3 separate regions of the Homo sapiens genome follow, and all the other regions are linked to region 3. The links come from fine-mapping of genetic effects on gene expression. A gene starts in region 3. Each other region holds a variant in brackets. All regions are shown on one strand. Distances are from middle to middle. Region 1 overlaps ANXA2 (annexin A2). Region 2 overlaps ANXA2 (annexin A2). Region 3 holds the start of ANXA2 (annexin A2).

What was found.
Region 1: its variant is fine-mapped to the expression of ANXA2 in whole blood (INTERVAL, PIP above 0.99). The same link has a PIP of 0.9 or more in monocytes after LPS.
Region 2: its variant is fine-mapped to the expression of ANXA2 in tibial artery (GTEx, PIP above 0.99).

The regions. Positions count from the first base shown.
Region 1 is chr15:60,345,367-60,349,605 of GRCh38, reverse strand. ANXA2 (annexin A2) reads left to right here. Exons shown (of 13, transcript NM_004039.3): 12 at 409-531; 13 at 1,917-2,455. The coding sequence ends at 1,976. Among named protein-coding and RNA genes, the nearest start is that of ANXA2, 50 kb to the left of the region's middle. The variant G/A (reference allele first, on the strand shown) is at 2,195.
Region 2 is chr15:60,373,658-60,377,896 of GRCh38, reverse strand. The region is part of intron 3 of ANXA2 (annexin A2); the gene reads left to right. Among named protein-coding and RNA genes, the nearest start is that of ANXA2, 22 kb to the left of the region's middle. The variant A/C (reference allele first, on the strand shown) is at 1,963.
Region 3 is chr15:60,395,511-60,399,749 of GRCh38, reverse strand. ANXA2 (annexin A2) reads left to right here and starts at 1,764. Exons shown (of 13, transcript NM_004039.3): 1 at 1,764-1,807. RefSeq lists silencers at 1,032-1,341, 1,462-2,001, 2,072-2,211 and enhancers at 2,372-2,561, 2,582-2,631, 2,692-2,741, 2,235-2,826, 2,827-3,418.

The DNA.
Region 1 (4,239 bases), 50 kb after region 3:
CAGTGTACACTGTGCCCTAATATCCCTTATCCAAAATGCTTGGGACCAGGAATGTTTTATATCTCAGATTTATTTTTGATTTTGTAATATTTGCATATATATGATGAAATATTTTAGGGATGGGACCCAAGTCTAAACTTGAGATTCATTTATGTTTTATATAGACCTTACACACATAGCCTAAAGGTAATTTTATACAACGCTTTTGATAATTTTGTGCATGAAACAGTTTGTGTTAAGTGCTGTATGTGGAATTTTTCATTGTGGCATCATGTCGGCACTGAAAAAGTTTTGGATTTTGGAGCATTTTAGATTTCAGATTTTCAGATCAGGGATGCTCAACCTGTAGACGCTTTCTTTAACGATAACATTCTCAGCGAATGTAACAAATATCAACTTGATTTTCAGGGCAAGGGGACGCGAGATAAGGTCCTGATCAGAATCATGGTCTCCCGCAGTGAAGTGGACATGTTGAAAATTAGGTCTGAATTCAAGAGAAAGTACGGCAAGTCCCTGTACTATTATATCCAGGTAAGCCCGAGGTGCAGTGTCAGCCTGCCCTGCCGTCCAGAGCACCCCGGGCCCTGGCAGGTGGCCTGGCAGAATGATGACAGAGTGGCGATTTTCTGTTTTCTGACTCTCTGGGGAAGAGATGCTAGTCATCAACTATCAGGGATTTATTTTGAAAGCACCATTTGTGATTTGTCCTGGACTTTGTACAATCAGGCAGATGTTTTATATTTTTCACATCTGTTACTCTACAATGATCATCGGTGTTCATGACGATGATCCTGCAAGGCTTGCTGACATCCCGAAGAGGCTTGGAAGATCAGTTACATTTTACTTTTTTTTTTTTTTTTGAGACGGAGTCTTGCTCTCTCGCCCAGGCTGGAGTGCAGTGGCCACAATCTCGGCTCACTGCAACCTCCGACTTCTGGGTTCACACCATTTTCCTGCCTCAGCCTCCCAAGTAGCTAGGACTACAGGCGCCCGCCACCACACCCGGCTAATTTTTTTGTATTTTTAGTAGAGACAGGGTTTCACCGTGTTAGCCAGGATGGTCTCGATCTCCTGACCTCGTGATCCGCCCGCCTCGGCCTCCCAAAGTGCTGGGATGACAGGCGTGAGCCACTGCGCCCGGCCACATTTTACTTTTATTATGCATTGGTTCCTTGAAAAATCCTCTGGGATAGGCCTAACAACTTTCAGTTATTCAGAACTCCCATCTCTCCAATCAGTTTAGCATCTGTCTGTTTTGATGTGATGTCGCATTTGCAGTAAGGAAGTGATGGCATTCACAGTGGTACCACTGTGTAGATTTCAGACAGCCCTTGCAATTCCCCTTTCTAGAAGTTCCTCAGATGTCCAAAGGCATGCCCATGGTTAGCAAGGATAAAGTTAGAGCTGGATTTTTTGTAGCCAGGTTTATTAGGGCACATGTTTAAAGTCAAAGGACCAGTTAGACTCTTAGTAATTGTTCCTCACCTCACCAGCTTATTTCCACTTGACCTTAATAATGCAGGAAATAGGAGAGTGAGCTAGGAAAGTACCCTGTTTTCTGTGGAAAGACGAGGACGAGAGAGGAAAGTTAGGGTGTTTGTAGGACCTTGCTGCAGTAAGAACAGCCCTGGTCACTAACCTATGTCAATCCTCAGCACCTTGCACTCCCTCCACCCCACAGTCCTAAGGAGCCTTGAGTGTCTTCCCCAGCACCTCCTCCGACCACACTCCTGGAGGCTTCCCTGGCAATGGTTTGGGTGTGGCCTTCCAGGCCTTTGTATCAGGGCAGGTCTCCTGCAGAGTCTTCTCTTTGTCATGGGAGAAGCTTCATTGTGCGTTGAGGCTACTTCTGTGTTATTGAGGAGTCTGGGCTTTTTTCTGATACCACGTTTCTTTTCTTTCCTGGGCCATTGTAGCAAGACACTAAGGGCGACTACCAGAAAGCGCTGCTGTACCTGTGTGGTGGAGATGACTGAAGCCCGACACGGCCTGAGCGTCCAGAAATGGTGCTCACCATGCTTCCAGCTAACAGGTCTAGAAAACCAGCTTGCGAATAACAGTCCCCGTGGCCATCCCTGTGAGGGTGACGTTAGCATTACCCCCAACCTCATTTTAGTTGCCTAAGCATTGCCTGGCCTTCCTGTCTAGTCTCTCCTGTAAGCCAAAGAAATGAACATTCCAAGGAGTTGGAAGT[G/A]AAGTCTATGATGTGAAACACTTTGCCTCCTGTGTACTGTGTCATAAACAGATGAATAAACTGAATTTGTACTTTAGAAACACGTACTTTGTGGCCCTGCTTTCAACTGAATTGTTTGAAAATTAAACGTGCTTGGGGTTCAGCTGGTGAGGCTGTCCCTGTAGGAAGAAAGCTCTGGGACTGAGCTGTACAGTATGGTTGCCCCTATCCAAGTGTCGCTATTTAAGTTAAATTTAAATGAAATAAAATAAAATAAAATCAGTTCCTGAGTCACACAATCCACATTTCGAATGCTCAGCTTTCACATGTGGTCAGCAGCTAGTATATCTGGACAGCGCAGGCAGGGAACATTTCGATAGAAAGTTCTGTTGGGCAGCAGTACATGCCCAGGGCATGAGAGGACCTATGGGGGAGAAAAAGGGTCCCAGAGGGACCCCTTATCTGCTTATCTTTCTACAGGTTAATTAGGTGAAAATAAGCATCAGGGGCAGCCACAAACTGGAGAGAGCAGTGGGGCAGGGTGGGGCAGGCTACAGCATTCTGGCAAAGGAGATCCAACACAAGCCGATGGGAAGCACGGAGAAGGGATTTCTTTTGACTGGGAGGATTGAGAAAGATGATAGAGAAAAGGAACAATTTGAGCTGCACACTAAAATCTAAGGTGAGGTTTTACAGCTGGGAGAAAGCACTCCATGCAGGTTCTTAAGGGTCTGGGAATGAATGACAGGTCGCTGATACAATGGTACACATGTCAAAAAGTTCAGAGACTTCTTTCTGTACAGGGAAAGTTATGTCTCTCCCTTACTAGCCAGTGGCCTTCCCTGGAGTCGCCTGGTTTCCAGTACATTTTCATGGATAGACTGCATACGCATGTATATATATGTATCTATCTGTGTTCATAAATGTGAAGGTGCTGTCCCCAGGCTGCTGGTACTGGGTTCTGCAGATTCCTTTTTATACAAGTGCTCCCCATAAGCAGGGTAGAGGGCTGGGAGTGAGGGGAAGTTGACTACTCCTCCTAACCCTTCTCCTTAGTGGAGGGTGTGTCAACTACTCATTTTTGGCACCTGGCTGATGCAGGGCCCACTCAGTCATCTGCAGGGACTAGGTAGGTAATGGAAATGAATGTATGAAATGGGCAGGTTGGACAGAAGTGGGGAATCTGGGGAAAATGGGGAATGCCTGCCTTGCTTGAGGCATTCAAATTCAATTCAAACAACAGTCGTAACAACATGGCATTGACCAAACCAAATACATCCGTGAGCTGATTGGCTGCTATTTTGGCCCTTTGGCAAACTTTAGATGGAAATTTGGATCGAGCATGGCTCTTGGGTCACTAGTGGCCCATAACGTATGTGAAAGGCCCCTGAGATAGTCCTTAAAAAGCAGGTTATGCAAAAATCAGGTATTTTATCAAATGTGTCCTGCCTATACATATTAAAATGGATGCCCCAAATCACAGAATATACTGTTCTGTGTGCTTGGGCAGAGTTCAAGGAACTGCCTAAGAAGCAGGACCTTTCTCATTAACCCCAAATTATACTGAACTCAGAATTGATAGGGCTGGGCAGAGACTGTCAGGAGCAGTGTTTCAGATCAGTGAACATTTAGGCATTGTTACCTCTCAATCATACGTGTGTTTCAGGCTGCAAAGGGAGCAGTGGTGTGGAGCAGACAAGGCCATGGGGTGAATATGGGGAAACTTACGCTCCCACTGTGCCCAGGACAGTCTGGCCACTGGTGTGGCCAACAGGTATGTGGGAAAGTTGAAAGGGCAGGCCAACATAGGAAAGGCGCTTGGAGAACTGTTTCAAACACTGTCTACTGTTTTTCCTCTATACAAAGCAATGGCAGTCCAGTGTTTTCCAAAACTCACAGCCAGGGCACTTGAATTTTGGTCCCATTTTCTTCTGGATTTCAGCCTGTCCTCTTCAGTCAAGCTGTCCAAACTGTTTCATGAATAAAGAGAACCATCTGGAGGTTTGACTTATTCTCCCCAGAAATTTTACTTTGCAAAGAGAAGGAAAAGGGTACCTGGCAGGCTG
Region 2 (4,239 bases), 22 kb after region 3:
AGGCTCGTCTCGCACTCCTGACCTCATGTGATCCACCTGTCTTGGCCTCCGAAAGTGCTGGGATTACAGGTGTGAAATCATAGGCCTGGCCTATGATTTCTTTTAATCAAAAAAGAAAAAATAAAAGGCATTAGCAATGGAAACAGACGTACGTCACTTCATGGTCCTTCCTTTACTGCACTGTGTAGATATTATGGTTTTTACAAATTGAAGATTTGTGGCAATGCTATTCACTTTGTCTCTGTGCCAGCATTTTTTAGAAATAAAAGTATTTTTTAAATTTAGTTATGTGTTTTTTAGACATAATGCTATTACACACTTAATATAATATAATCACACTTTTATATGCATTGGGAAACCAAATTGTGTGACTTGCATTATTGCTATATTTGCTTTATTGTGATGGTCTGGAACCGAACCAGTAGTATCTCCGAGGTATGCCTGTATATGGAATTGTGGGCAATTGCTCCTTTTCCTTTCTTGGGCTTTCAGTATATTCTGTATTTCTGTATTTTGCAAATTTTCTATGATGACTTGTATTACTTTCATAGTGGAAGGCAGTAAACTTAATTAAAAACAAAAATGAAGTCATTAGTTGGAAAGGATAACAACCCTTTTGTTCCTTCCTCCTTCTCCTTGATATTATTAGATACTGGATAACTAAAACCACTTAAAAATGAGCTAATTAAGATCTTACCTTCTTTTTTTAGAATGCCTTTTGCCTTAAGTGTAATTAAGAAGCTTACACCACACCTTGGCCCCACTCCCACCTCTAACCCTTCATCGGGAAGAGACAATACTAAGTAGTTGGTGTTTCCTTGACATCAAAGGACACGGTATAAACCTCAAGTATTGATAGAAACAAAAGCCAGAGGACCATGTGACGATGACTGGCCCTCTTTCTCTCCTAGACGGGGGTAGCCGTGTGTACACACGTGTGTGTGAGTGTGCCGGGACGCTACCCACTCCATGTAATGTTCCATTGATTTCCCTGTGGTCTGTGTGCTCTCAGGAAGAAGAGCTGGGAGCAGGCCACCTTGGAGGAGGCTTAATCAGCTGCTGTCGAGTACACGGATGGTGCACAGGAGCAGGCCTGGAGTGGGATGATGGCGAGGAGGGTAGAGCTGGTCAGAGACCTGTTTGGGGGCACTGCTTGCCATGGCCAGGGCATGGCTGCAGGAGTCACGAAGGCTGTTCTCACAGACGAACTGTCAGTCACACCTGCTCTTCTTGGTGTGAGCTAAAGCTCCTCACTTGCAGCCCTCTGTTAGAGGAGAGAGGCTACTTTTCCCAGCCAGTCTGCCTCCTGGCACCCTCGAGAGAATATATTCCTAATTGCTGTGCTCAACTGAATGAATATACCTCCAGGTGTGCAGACAAAACCAAAAATACCTGTCCTGGCTCACTTTCCAGTGCTTGGGAGGCAGCTCTTATTCACCCCTTCCCCTAACTCTTGTCACCCCTCTCCTGTGAGCTGTTATGGCATCTGTCGTCGTCGTCTTCTTTTTTTTTTTTTGAGACAGAGTTTTGCTCTTGTTGCCCAGGCTGGAGTGCAATGCACAATGTCGGCTCACTGCAACCTCGCCTCCCGGGTTCAAGCGATTCTCCTACCTCAGCCTCCCGAGTAGCTGGGATTACAGGCATGTGCCACCATGCCCGGCTAATTTTTTTTTGCATTTTTAGTAGAGATGGTGTTTCTCCATGTTGGTCAGGCTGGTCTTGAGCTCCTGACCTCAGGTGATCCGCCTGCCTCAGCCTCCCAAAGTGCTGGGATTACGGGTGTGAGCCACTGCGCCTGGCCTATGGCATCTGTCTTCTAAGGGACCTCCCTGCTTCAGCCTTTACAGAGTATCTTTCTAGCCTCGTCTCTGGCTCTGTTCACGGCCCTCTACAGAGCATGCCTCTGCCTTTGTTCTTTGAGGAGCGTGTAGCCTCCTTCCTCCCCACCTCAAACATCTGCGC[A/C]GTTCCCATTTACCTCTCAGCCTGGGCCAGTGCACAGCATCAACAAGCTTTCTCTGAGAAGGCAGAACCAGCTATTTCTTGGTCTGTGTTCTCATCATACTCTACATACTCGTTTATTGTGCTTATGAGAAGGGGGGAGAAGCACAATACTGCTAAAATCAAAATAAGTCTGCTTTGTTTCTAGTTTGAAGGGATCTCAGTATTTTTTGCCTGTGCTGCCTAAACCAAATGCAGGATTGTTTTATGTATGCTCCGTCCTGAGGTAGACTATGCAACGACTTACCTTAATTTATGTCTGGTTAGAAACTGAGTACAGTCATGCAAAAGTAGTAATACTGCTTAATTAACAAGAGGTTGCTGAGACTTAATCTGTAGGAGTCTCTTGGTTTAGATTGGCCTTGGGTTAAATATATACGATGGCGTGTACAACACAGCTGTGAATGGTTTACCATATGGGTCCAAATAACTAGAAAGGAGAGTCAGCTAAATTAGAAAAGGATGAATCGAGACTCCAGAAAATAGACTGTAATTAGCAGCAGCACAACCCCAGAGTTAGTGTAAGTGCCAATAAACTGGTACAGCTTTGGTCTCTCTCTGGAAGGGGAGGGTAATGAATTACCCTATTATTATTGCCAGTTTTGATTTTAGCAGTATTTGTGTTCTCCGGAAGGGATGCAAAAGTGGGTGATTTTTCTCCCCCCTTTCTCAGAAGCGCAAGTATAGAAGCATAACTGCACGAAGTTTTGCACTTATTTTTTTCTTATACTTTTAAAATAGAACTGCTTAAGATTTCTGTGGCCAAAAGACTAACATCCCATGCCACTGCAGAACAAGCCAGGATGGATATTTTTGGTTTCACCTGCACGCCAGGTATATTCATTTGGCTGAGCAGAACAATTAGAAATATATTCTCTTGAGGGCGCCAAGAGGCAGACTGGCTGGGAAAAGTAGCCTCTCTCCTCTAACGGAGGGCTGCAAGTGAGGAGCTAAACCAACAAGAGCAGGTCTGAGTGTGAGCTCTTCTGTGACTCACGTAGCCCAGGGCCTTCTCACCCTCCTGGAAGGGAACGGGAGGGAACGGACCCTTCCCAGTTGCTGAGGCCTTTCTCTCTGTGTTCAAGTTTACTTTAGACTGACTTCTCATCTTACAGCAGTGCTGGGAACAAAGAGGCCAGTGCTGAGTCACAGCCACCCTGTGACTCTGCCAGCACAGATTTTCTTTGTAGTGATATTTGTCTATGTATCTATGTAGGTGCCAGACCTGAGCCACGTAGCTATCAAACACTGGAAAAGGAGTCCTTGGTGCCTTTCTAATTGTAAGCATCAGCTTTCATCACCTGCCTCTCTTCAGCTCTTTCTTTTTTTAAAAAACAGTTAGCTCTTTTCCCTGAGGAAATCCAAATACCAGTTTCACCCAGGGACAATGGCAGTAACCAGATTCTAATCTGGTGTCAGCAATGCCAAGAAAATTCTCCAATATCAAGTGAGTTAAGGGTGGCTGCGTTGGTTTCTCTCGCATCTGTTCACATTTTTTAATTTTCTGTCCCATGAGGCTGACGGAGTAGCAGAGCACAATACAGGGCTTGCATTTTATGCATGTTCCTTCACTGACGATTTGATTTGAATCTTGAGCAGTGGTGTACTTTGTGTTTTCCTGCTGGTCTTGTAGCTTGTTTCAGAAATATAATTCTGCATGGAAGGCAGACAAGGTTCTAGATTATTAAAGCAGCCGGTGAGATTACCAAGTCGATGATACCTTAAATCCTTTCTAAGGAACTCAGCTGAAGTGAGATCAAAGCAGAATGGAAATAGAAGAAATCTGATTTTTGGACCAAAACCACTTCTTAGGCACTTAGCTAAACTACACTTTCCCCGAGTTGAGACTGTGTGCCCCAGCTGTGCCAGGCTTGGGAGAGGCACCCAACTCCCCTGCCTCATTTCACCCTGTGCAATGCCTACTTTCTCTCCCATCTCTTGGCAGCTGCCAGAGTTTGTCATGTAACTGGACTACTCATCCATGTGTGCCAATGGCAAAAATGTTCTCTATCTTTCTTTGCCCCATATTTCACAGGCAGAAATTCAAATGCAGGCAGGGGCCAGGCTTGTGACAGAGAAGCTGAATGAAGGCAGTAGATGTGTTTCTAGTCGTTAACTCAGCCAGTCTTTTCTGCATCCTGGTAAAATAAGTATTATCATTATCTCTGTTCTATAGGGGTGAGATACCTAGGCCTAGGAAGAGAACTAATGTGCCCCAGGATCTCACAGGTCTGAGTCCCA
Region 3 (4,239 bases):
AAAGTGTTGCTTGATTTTCTATTTGGCTCTGTGGTAGGGCCCATCGCGTATAATTCCTCGTGAAAGCGCTGGGTAACAGAAAGCTTTGGGCGGGTTAAAAGACCTCAGCTGTGGCCGACTTTGCCTGTGTCACTCTATGCGAGTGGGCAGAGCACTGAATGTCTGTTGGCCTTGCTATCATTCTCTGATTCCCAGGAGTGAATTGACGCTCAAATGGAAAGTAAAAATGGATGTTAAGATAAATGGGAGATTGAAACACAGAATCATCAAAACCAGGAAAAAGAGCTGCAGGAAGTAGTGTGCAAGGAGGGGTTTAAAAAACGCAGCCAGAGATCCTCGGGATTCTCAGCGTCGCTTTCCTGTTAGTTTGAGGTTCGAATACAGTATTTGCGTCGTCTCACATACAACAAATAGGTGTCTGCCTGCACGTTGCCAACGTGACTCTTGGAAGAAAAGCGAGAAGCAGCAAAACCGAGCAAGGGAGTTGGCTAAACGGCTGCAAGAAACACACACACACACACACACACACACACACACACGGAAGAAAAGCGAGAAACAGCAAAACCGAGCAAGAGAGTTGGCTAAACGGCTGCAAGAAACACACACACACACACACACACACGGAAGAAAAGTGAGAAACAGCAAAACCGAGCAAGGGAGTTGGCTAACTGGCTGCAAGAAACTCTCTATCTCACTCTCTCTCTCTCTCTCTGTGCTGCAAGAAACTCTCTCTCTCTCTCTCTCTCTCTCTCTCTCGGAAGAAAAGCGAGTAACAGCAACACCGAGCAAGGGAGTTGGCTAAACGGCTGCAAGAAACACACACACACACACACACACACCACACACGCACACACACACCCCAGCAGTCATGAAAGAAGGAGAGGAAAGTTCTTTGTTGAAACTCCGGGTTCGAAACACACACACACACACACACACACACACACACACACACACACACACACACACGAAACTCCGGGTTCAAAGCTATGGGCCCCACCCCGCTCAGGACTGCCTGCTACGAGGCCGCGCAGAGATGCCCCAGGCGCGGAGAGAAGCGGAGCACAGCCGTGCTAGGGACAGGGGCGCCACCCTGGGCGGGACTGAGGTGGGATCCTGGCTCCCGGCTTTGGCCTCCCAGCCCAGGCTCGGGGCTTCCTGGCCCTCGGAGGCCGGGGCGGGCCAGGCTTTGCAGCACAGGGCGAATCTCCCTCCCTCCCCGGGCGCCCCCCGGGAACTGGCGGCCAGAGGTTAAGCTGACATGTTTGCAGACGGTAATGGGGCGCTGGATGCCAACAGCCCCAGCTCAGGGGAGTCCAGATTTATGTTTCTTGGAACAATTCTTTCCTCCATTGCATTAACGCCAAAAAAAAAAAAAAAAAAAAAAAAACACTTAATCAAGCCCAGAGTCTACTACTAAAGTCTTGTTAATTTATTAACCCAAGCCGAGGCTGAGAGCTCGACGTGGCACTTAAGAAGTAAAATGAGGAAAGGAGGAAGAAACGGGGTCCCTGTGGGCCTCGGGGCAGCCTCGGCCGGGCTTTCTCGGAGGGCAGGGCCAGGGGCGCTGGGGCCGCTCCCGCGTGGCGCGGCTCGGGAGCGTTCCAGGGCGCGGTCCCTGCGGGCCGGCGGGCCGGGGTGAGTCACCCCTGACTTGGGGTGGGAGCGGGCCGTGTAAGGGGGAGGCGGGGCGGGGCGGGGCGGGCCTCGCCTCGCCTAGGGAGGATGTGGCGGGTATAAAAGCCCCACCCAGGCCAGCCGGCTCTGCTCAGCATTTGGGGACGCTCTCAGCTCTCGGCGCACGGCCCAGGTAAGCGGGGCGCGCCCTGCCCGCCCGCGATGGGCCGCCAGCTAGCGGGGTGTGGAGACGCTGGGAAGAAGGGTACGGCCTGGCAGGGAGGCCCCGGCAACTGGCCCCGGAGGCCGTCGGGGGCAGGGGGCTGAAGGGACGGCCGGCACTGGAGAGTCTTTGGGGAGGGGGCTCAGGGACAAGGTGTTTGGGGCAGGGGTGAGGGGCCACCGGCCCTCGGGCCGGGAGGGTGCAGGGCAGAGGTGGTGGGGGGTCGGGCTTCTCTAAGAAGCCCTAGCGGGAGCGGGGCGAGGCGGCGTGGGGAGAGGGGCGGAGGGAGGCCCCGCATTCCAGACGCGCCAGGCGCCGCCGAGGCAGGGCGTGGCCGCCCAGGGAGCCGCAGGTCCCCGGCGCAGCAGTAGCAAGTGGGCTTTCCACTGCCCTCTAGAAAGTGCCCCCCATCTGCTCTAAGTTACTGTACTCGAAACAAACGCGCGCTTGTGGAGTTGAACCGACCAGCAGGAGGGAAGTAGCGGGGGAAGACGAGAGGGGGGAGTGTGAGTAGGCACCCCTCAGCCCCCCATAAAAGAAGACATTAAAACGTCAGTTATTCCCCTTGCTCTAGGTTATCTTGTAGCATAGCAACTTCGGATTTCACTCTACCCGGAGAGTTTCCCGCTTGGTTGAACACATTGGCCTCAGGAAGGTAGTGTCCCCCATGATTCTGTGGGGAGGGTTGTCCTGTTACTCGCCATGATGTGACAATGAGTCAGGAACTGAGAGTAGAGAGAAGGGCGTGGCCCCGGGGCCTCTCCCTTCTGGCCGCTCTGTGCAGCTGGCCCCACTGCTGGTGTGGAGGGCTTGGGTTCCATCAGCCGGCTGTTGAGAAGAAGGAGGGGAACACAGATAAGTTTCCTCATCTGGGAAGGTGGCTTAAGGATGCCTATTCTTACCACCACCCAGAGTTATTGGAGATTTCAAAAAACACAGTCATTAGGTAATAAATGTGTAAAGTACACAAAAAACAAAGTGCTGTGCAAATGCAAAGTGTCATTTTTGTAGTAAGATTGCCGTTTTAAAGCTGTGGGTGTTCTGAGTGCGTGTGTAAAAGAGCAGTGGCCTCATGGGTGCACGCTGGGCCATTACCAAGAACCTTAAGTTGTTGGTGTGCAAAGGCCTGGGCCCCAGACTGTACTGATGGATTCTGTTCACACGTGTGTGCTACTGTGCCTGTCTGGAACTTGGTGACTTGGAATGCAGAATGCACTTTCCCACTGAAACAGTGTTGCAGAAGGTGCTGACGTTCCCAGGCTAGCCCTGAAAGACCTTTTTAACATGCACTGCCTGATTATGGGATTGGTGGTGGGGAGGTGGAGGGTAGTGAGGGGCAATGTGTGTGTAGGAAGACTAAATCACTGAAATATTTTTCTGGAACTTTTTTTAGCTTTAAGGTTGACACTGAGTAAATTATTTTAATTGGAAAATTATGTCTTTGCCCCTGTTCCACTTTCTTTTTTCCACCTTCCACCTCCTTAGAGACGCTCTTCTGGCTCTTCCGTGACGCATTACAACAGCCATCCAGGCCGGTCCAGTTACGCTGCATTCCTTCCTCCTTCCCATTTCGGCGGACCTGCATCCAGCTAGAGACTAGCAGATTGAATCGATATTCATTAAGTTAGGAATGGTTGGTGGTCCTAAGAGCCTCAGCAACCGAGAGGAGTCTTGTTATTTAAAAAACAACGATACTGGGCGTGGTCGTGGGCCTGTAGTCCCAGCTGCTCAAGCTAGTGGATCTCTTGAGTCCAAGGCCAATGTGAGCAACATAGCAAGACCCAGTCTCAAAAAATAAATACATAATAATAATAAAAAACCCTCGTTCACCTAAACAGATCTATAATTTATAGAATGTAAAGCAGCAATATTCAGGCAATATTAAGGAAGATTTTTGGTAAGACTGGGGCAGCAGAGGTGCCCTTGATGGGCAAGGGCCAGGAGTGTTAACACAGTCCTGCTTAGTAATTTCTTCCCTTCTTCCAAGTCTGTCGATTATCTAAAGGTCAAGGGTTTGTCCAAAAATGTCCCTTGCATCTGCAGTGGAAGGATGTGACATGTATGTGCATTTTTACAATTGGAGGTTTGTGATTTGGAGACCGTTTAGATTTTGTAATTTCCCGCAGTGCCAACTAGACTGCCTGTGGTAAATGCCCAGGAAATATTGCTGACTCACTGACTTTGATTAGGAGCTCAGTCTTGCACTGGAGTCTCAATATTTAGCATCTTGTGTCTTTGAGCTATTAAACTATGGTATTGATTGACATTAGGCTCGCAGTCATGGCCGTTAGTTTCCTGGCTAATTTCTGATTTAAGTAGTTTTCCTGGCAAAGTAGATGTGCTTCTATAATTGCTATTGATTTTGAGGGCTGTAGGCTCTTCCTACACCACTGGGCCTAGAA